Linked DNA regions of Homo sapiens. Changing the gene in region 1 together with any one later gene gives a genetic interaction. Each region holds a gene or a part of one and is shown in the gene's direction. Other genes may lie near its edges.

What was found.
Region 2: of POU2AF1 (region 1) and SIAH1, changing one suppresses a phenotype caused by changing the other (phenotypic suppression), as found in Homo sapiens cells (one study listed by BioGRID).

The regions. Positions count from the first base shown.
Region 1 is NC_000011.10:111,372,763-111,376,583, reverse strand, and holds part of POU2AF1 (POU domain class 2-associating factor 1), read left to right. Parts: intron 1-3,821. UniProt on the Homo sapiens protein: Transcriptional coactivator that specifically associates with either POU2F1/OCT1 or POU2F2/OCT2. It boosts the POU2F1/OCT1 mediated promoter activity and to a lesser extent, that of POU2F2/OCT2. It recognizes the POU domains of POU2F1/OCT1 and POU2F2/OCT2.
Region 2 is NC_000016.10:48,375,126-48,378,946, reverse strand, and holds part of SIAH1 (E3 ubiquitin-protein ligase SIAH1), read left to right. Parts: intron 1-3,821. UniProt on the Homo sapiens protein: E3 ubiquitin-protein ligase that mediates ubiquitination and subsequent proteasomal degradation of target proteins.

The DNA.
Region 1 (3,821 bases):
GACTAAATGTGAACCCTGGCTTTTGGTTAAGATTAGAGCATAAAGTGACAAAGCCCAGAACTGCTGGCACAGAGAAGTAGAAATCTTCAAGCCCCAACCAATGGATTTGAGATTTGCTTGATGGGCCAATTGGATGAAGAAGTCACTCCATCTGTAGATTCTCTCCCTGGGTTCTGGACTTGGACCTGCTGGTCAGGTGCACATGTGAAGAATTACCATCCCTCCCCAGCTAGTAACAGTGTAGTGGAAATAGCAGGAACCTTGGAGGGAGACAGGTCTGAAAGTTGCCTGTGCAACTTAGTTCTTTCTTTGTGAGAAGGAAATTTCCATTCATTTCCTTATCTGGGAAGTGGGGATTCTAATGTCTGCCTCCCAAGGTTTTTGTGAGAATTAAAGTAGAGAATGTAGGTAAAATGATAGCAAGTTTCCTGATAAGTAGTGGTAGGGATGAGTTAGTACCTTCCGTCCTGGAAACCACCTGTGGGCCCATCTTGAATGATCAGTGTTATGTTAAATTCATATATTCTTTTCCACACTTTGATTAGAATAGTTAAAAAGCCACAGTCTAAATATTCTTGGGTGATAGGATATTGCAAAATTTTCCAAGGGTCTAAAATAGTGGTCTGCAAACTATGGCCTCTGTGCCAAATCAGGCCTGCCACTCCATTTGTAAATAAAGTTTTATTGGAACACAGCTCTGTCTATCATTTGAATATTGTCTAGGGCTGCTTTTGCAGAGTTGAGTAGTTGTGACAGAGACTGTGCAGCATACAAAGCCTAAAATATTTTCTCTCTGGCTTATAATAGAAAAACATTGCCAACCTCTGGTCTGAGATGATTTGCTTGGTTCTTCAGGCATTCATTTCCTTAAGATACTCAGTATCAGGCCGGGTGCGGTGGCGGGCGCCTGTAATCCCAGCACTTTGGGAGGCCAAGGCGGGCAGATCACGAGGTCAGGAGATCGAGACCATCCTGGCTAACATGGTGAAACCCCGTCTCTACTAAAAATACAAAAAAATTAGCTGGGGTTGTGGTGGCAGGCCCCTGTAGTCCCAGCTACTCGGGAGGCTGAGGCAGGAGAATGGCATGAACCCGGGAGGCGGAGCTTACAGTGAGCCGAGATCGTGCCACTGCACTCCAGCCTGGGGTACAGAGCGAGACTCCGCCTCAAAAAAAAAAAAAAAAAAAAAAAAGATACTCAGTATCCTGGGGTTGTACATTGCCAACACCAATGGGAAATAAAACTTGCAGCCAATTCATTAAATAATTTGTACAATGCCCCAAACTGATTTGATTGAATTTCTTCCTTAAAAGTGATAGAACTGTGTATAATAAACTGAACTCCATTTGTTAGAAAGTGAACAAATTGGACAGTTGCTTTTTATTGTTGTTGTTTGTATTAGGGAACAATCTACATGCTAATGAAAGGCAGGCTTGACTGATTTTCTTTGGACTGGCTGATTGTCTTGGTGTCCTGTGGACTTGGCCTTGGAACAGGAAATAATTCGTATCAGATTATTATGTCATGGATATGCCTTTGCTTTCAGACAACTTGAACAGAGCAGAGATTTAGCAAACAGAAAAATTAAGGACTTAAAATTCTCATCAACATAGAACTCTGCTCTTCAGATGTACTCTAGGGTTCCACTAAAGAGCCAATATTGTTTGGGAGGCAGTTAAAGATAAGTAAAATGTGTACTATGCATATAATTTTTGGAAGCCTATCTCCTACATAAATTTAAGCACAACTTACAATGAGAGGTAATTTAGGTTTCTGGACAACCTCTAATATTTCTATTCTATGTTACAACCTTTGCTTATTTAATAAGCCTAGTGAGCACCTTTACTTCTTACCAAGTTGATTCCATTGATTCAGCAGTTCTTTTTTTGAGATAGAGTCTTGCTCTGTCACCCAGGCTGCAATGTAGTGGTGCAAGATCAGCTCACTGCAACCTCTGCCTCCAAATTCAAGTGATTCTCCTGCCTCAGCCTCCTGTGTAGCTGAGATTATAGGCACATGCCACAATGCCCAGCTAATTTTGCATTTTCATTGGAGATGGAGTTTCACTATGTTGGCCAGGCTGGTCTCGAACTCCTGACCTCGAGTGATCCACCTGCCTTGGCCTCCCAAAGTGCTGGGATTACAGGTGTGAACCACCACGCCTGGCCAATTAAGCAGTTCTTGCTGTTAAGGGCAAGTAGAATCCAAAAGAGAGACACAAATTCACGTGCACTGTCTGGAGGTGAAATAAAGGACAAACATCAACCAAATACACAGATTTAATTGGTAAAAAAGCAGATGATGTTCTTGATGGATATTTTACTTCCTGCCCCTTATATTTATTTACTAAAGAAAATGCCAGATTTGTCCCCAAAGTTACTGACTCAGAAGTTTTGAAAGCTCTCTCCCAATTCACACTTGGGATTCTGTTCTTTCATGAGGAACCAAAAAAAAAAAAAAAAAAAATCAAGTTTGCCTACAGCTGTTCATTAAATATGTGGACATTTAATTCATAAAGAAGTCTTATAAATATTTGCTTTTAACTTTCCCATTACAAAGTGTTTTTTCCCCCTTTGACATCTTTCTAAAGTAGTTTATCTTCCCACTTAATGAAGATGTCCACCTATTTCTTATTCTGAGCCAACCAAACCAAAGTTGGCTAATTGATTATGAACATTAACATAATTCTCACCTTTATGAAATGCTTAATAACACTCTAGTTTTCTCATTTTTGTAGAACTGCTTGACAACTAAGTGAGCCTACCTGGGATGGGGAGGCCTTCTCTGAAACCCTCTTGTCCCGCTTGTGTGATACTGGGGACAAGCACTTGTAGGCAGGAGCCAGGGGTTTTACTTTCCATTCTACAGATAATTAGATGAGAGACCTTAAGCAAGCCACCTAACCACTTTGGGTCTCAAATGTTCTAGTGCTGGAATGGAACTTGCCTTTTCCTGGCTAATTTTCCTGGAGATTGAACTTGATTGAGGTTCTTTGCCAGCTCTAATTGCTGAGTTTTCCTGAGTGTTTATACAAAAAATAAATTAAAGTTTAAAATCAGAAGTCCTTAATTTAATAGATGGGATTCTTCTATCTGCTTAGGGCAGTGTTTTTATACCTTGGCTACACACTGGAATGCTCTGAGGAGATTTAAGAAACACAGATGCCTGGATCTCAACCTAGAGCTTCTGATTAAATTGTCTTGGGCATTGAAGGAGAGCTGCAAATGGCTCCCAGGTGAGAAGGCTGAGAACTGCTGACCTGGAGGTTGAAATGGATGGCTTCTAATAAACCTTTGGGCATTGCTAAGAGCAGAAGAATGCTCAATCCTTTTAACAGTGATAAACAAACATCTCTGGGGAATGGAGAACTTATTTGGTGCTATGCAGTATACAAAATGTTCTGTTGGATCAGTTTGGATTACATTTGATTGCTGGTGAAGAGACCTGAAATAACGTAGATTTAAGTAAGACAGTGGTGTCCTTTCTCTCACATAAAAGAAGTCCACAGTAGGGTGTTCAGGATCTTATGGAGTCTCACAGTGCCAACATCATCCCAGGCTCCTTTTTCCTTTCTAATCTGCCATCCTTGGCATGTGGCTCTTGTCCTCAAGATTTTTTTCATAGTTGCCATTGTAACTCCAGCCATTACATCTGTGAGCATCACATCTTCGGACAAGCAAGAAGAAGAAAAAGGAATAGCAAAAGATCATGCCTCCTGATCGCTGCCCCTTCTCCCTCCCAACACACAACTTCTGCTGACATCTGATGCCATTTCTATCTACAAGGGAGAATAGCATAATTGTTTAGCTGGGCACATTGC
Region 2 (3,821 bases), on another chromosome or scaffold:
AAGGAGTCAAAGTGCTGAAGAGACCAGTGGGGTGGAAGGGAGACCTGGTGTCCAAGGATAAGGAGCTCGCCCTTTGAAGGGGGAAGGAGTACATCTTAGATGGAAGATGCAGCCAGATAAAGGCCCCATGAAGTAGGGATGAATTTGGACTGCTCTAGGACCTGAGGAGTGTTGCTGGAGCAAATGGGTAGTAGAGAGAGACAGGTTGAAGAACTGTGCAGAGGGAAAGAGAGGAGAGATGCTGTGAAGTGTTAGCTGATATTAGCATCTGGCTGTTGTTCAAGGAGATTCTAGGAGAATACCTAGAGCAATATTAGGACTTTTATTTTCTAAATGTAAACTATTTTGTTGACATTTAGCCTAAATACATATGGAAAAAGTGCTCAAATCATGTGTACAGCTTGACATTTTCACAAAAGGAACGCTATTGTAACCACCTCCCAGATCGAAGAAACAAGGAGCCGCCCCCTTCACAGGAAACCACCTCTTGACTTTTTACACCATAGATTTATTTTGCCTAATTTTGTGCCTTATATGAATGGAACAGTAGAGTTTGTACTCTTTCATTCTTTTGTTGTTGTTGTTGTTGTTTTGTGACAAAGTTTCACTCTTGTTGCCCAGGCTGGAGTGCAATGGCACAGTCTTGGCTCACGGCAACCTCCACCTCCCGGGTTCAAGCGATTCTCCTGCCTCAGCCTCTCGAGTAGCTGGGATTACAGGCATGCACCACCACACTTGGCTAATTTTTTGTGTTTTTAGTAGAGATGGGGTTTCTCCATGTTGGTCAGGCTGGTCTTGAACTCCCAACCTCAGGTGATCTGCCTGCCTTGGCCTCCCAAAGTGCTAGGATTACAGGCGTGAGCCACTGCGCCCGGCCTGTACTCTTTCATTTCTGTTTGGCTTCTTTCACTCAACATTATGTTTTTTTGTGTGATTAAGGAGTATTATTTGCTTATCCATGACAAAGTTACCAGCTGAATAGCCATGTGTCCCAGTACTTCTTATTTTATTTTATTATAATTTTTATTTTTATTAGAGACGAGATCTCACTATGTTGTCCAGGCTGGTCTCAAACTCAAAGGCTTTAGCAATCCTGCCGCCTCGGCCTCCCAGATTGTTGGGATTACAGGTGTGAGCTGCCACACCTGGCCCTTCTTTTGTTTTTTAAGTCTTATTCTTTTCCCTGACCATCTCAAATACTTTCTGACCAGTATTTCTAGAACGATTTTTTTTTTCCTTAAATCTTCAGGAGGCTCAGCGTGGCGGCTCACGCCTGTAATCCCAGCACTTTGGGGAGGCCGAGGCTGGTGGATCACTTGAGGTCAGGAGTTCAAGACTAGCCTGGCCAACATGGTGAAGCCCTGTCCTTGTCTCTACTAAAAATAAAAAAATTAGCTGGGCATGGTGTCATCCCCCTGTAATTCCAGCTACTCGGAGGCTGAGGCAGGAGAATCACTTAACCCGGGAGGTGTAGGTTGCAGTGAGCCGAGATGGTGCCACTGCACCCAGCCTGGGCAACAGAACAAGACTCTGTCTCAAAAAAAAAAAAAAAAAAAGTCTTCCAGAACTTTAGGTTTAATGTTACAGACAAGATATGACCAGAATAAAGCTGGCAGAAACCTTCCATTAGGTTTGTGGTTGCCCAGTCATGTTTGAACTGACTTGTTTTTTTTGTTTTGTTTTGTTTTTGGTTTTTTTTGCTTATTCGTTTTTGTTTTGAACAGGGAGTCCGGGCACATGGAATAAACTAGAAAGAGAAAAACCTTTGGAGAACTAATTATATTTATAAAACAGATCTTGCCAGTGAGAAATATTTTCTTAAGGAGTTTAATGCCAGTCTTGAATTTTGTAGAAAATATTTCAGCGTACTTGGTATAGTTATTTATTAGTGTCACATCGACCACCTTGGTCTAGTGATGGTTGATACAGTAAATATAAGTGTATACTAGCTTCTCTGCAAAGACTCTACCTTGGAAAGATTACTTCAATAATTTATTTGACAAAATGAAGTAATCCTCTCCCTGTTAAAAACTTCTTCCTGGTTTCCTTCCTTTGTATTTCACATTAAATTTTGCCCTTTTGAATTTGGCCAGAACTCAGGCTTGTTGGGTAAGGTAGCTTTACTTCTAAAAACTTGTCAAGGGCCCTGATTTAGCTTTATTAGAACAACTTCGGATATCTTGTCTATACAGACGTTAGTTAATTTTTGCAGACTGTATTCTTTTGAGTTTGTGAGGGGAGGGGGGCTATCATAAATTTTGTTAACTTTTAAAATGTTTAAGATATTTTCAGCCGGGTGTAGTGCCGGGCGCCAGTAATCCCAGCTACTTGGGAGGCTGAGACGGGAGAATTGCTTGAACCTGGGAGGTGGAGGTTGCAGTGAGCTGAGATTGCACCACTGCACTCCAGCCTGGGCGACAGAGCGAGACTCTGTCTCAAGAAAAAATAAATAAGATTTTTTTTTATAGTATAAAATAAAATGTCTACAAAATATGTAGTTTTTTGTGAATAGGCTGGTTTTAAGTTTCCTGTAAGTATCCATCTATTTGAGGAATTTTGAGAAAAAAAGTGAAAGCAAGGAGAAAATCAGCTCTTGAATTCTGTATTTGATGTTCTGTAGAAGTTACTAGCAATTCATTAACAGAAAATGTGGAGATATGATAAAATGTGCATTAAAATTTTTAAGTGTAATATTTTTTGTTGCCAATAATTTTATGAAACATTGGAGAGATACCGAAATCCCTCCTCACCCCCAAACTATTATTTATAATCTGATTACTAAAAAGTAACCATCATAGACATTTTGGTGTAGTCTGGGTGTGCTTCACATTTTTTTGTTTTACTCAGCCAAAGATATTTTAAAGTTAGTTTCTTTGATCTGACCTAAATTCTTGTAGTTCTCATGATTATCATCTCTAAGAACTATATATGTTTGAACTGTGTACTGTAATTTCAAACGATGGAATTTGTGCCGACAGTCTCTGTTTCTTGGAGTTCTTGATGCTTTGTGTGCCTGTAGTTCAGTGGTCCCATCTCTCTCTGGTTTCTAATTCCAGGCTTGCTCTCCCTTTGTCTGATCCTGCATCTTAAACCATTAAACTACATTCTGCAGTTTGGATGTCCTTCCAGTTTCTTTTCTGTTTCATTACATGCTACATACATGCATACATACATGAAAATATATACATCAATGTGCATATCTATTATACTTACCTATTTTTTTCTTTTAACCTAAATGAAATTGTAATCTGTATATTCTGTAGCTTTTTTTCTCCCCCCAATTTGTTTTTTGTTTTTTGTTTTTTTTTGAGACGGAGTCTCGCTCTGTCGCCCGGGCTGGAGTGCAGTTGGCCTGATCTCATCTCACTATACCCTCTAACTCCTGCGTTCAAGCAATTCTCTTGCCTCAGCCTCCCTAGTAGCTGGGATTACAGGTGCCCACCACCATGCCTGGATAATTTTTGTATTTTTAGTAGAAACAGTTTCACCATGTTGGCCAGGCTGGTCTCCAACTCCTGACCTCAAGTGATCCACCTGTCTCAGCCTCCCAAAGTTGCTGGGATTACAGGCGTGAGCTACTGCTCCTCGCCTCTCTCCCCCCACCCCGTTTAAACAGTTGATTCTTACATGTTAGTAAGTCTGATGTATGAGTCCATTTTATTTAAAGAAGGCAGCACACAGTATTCTGTTGTGTGGACCATAATTTAACCACTTTCTTAGGATAGGGCTGTTTTCAGTTTACTATTACAAACAGGCATCCATACACACTCACTCCTTTGCCAACATTAGAGGATAGACTTTTTAGAGTCTCACTGTGTCGC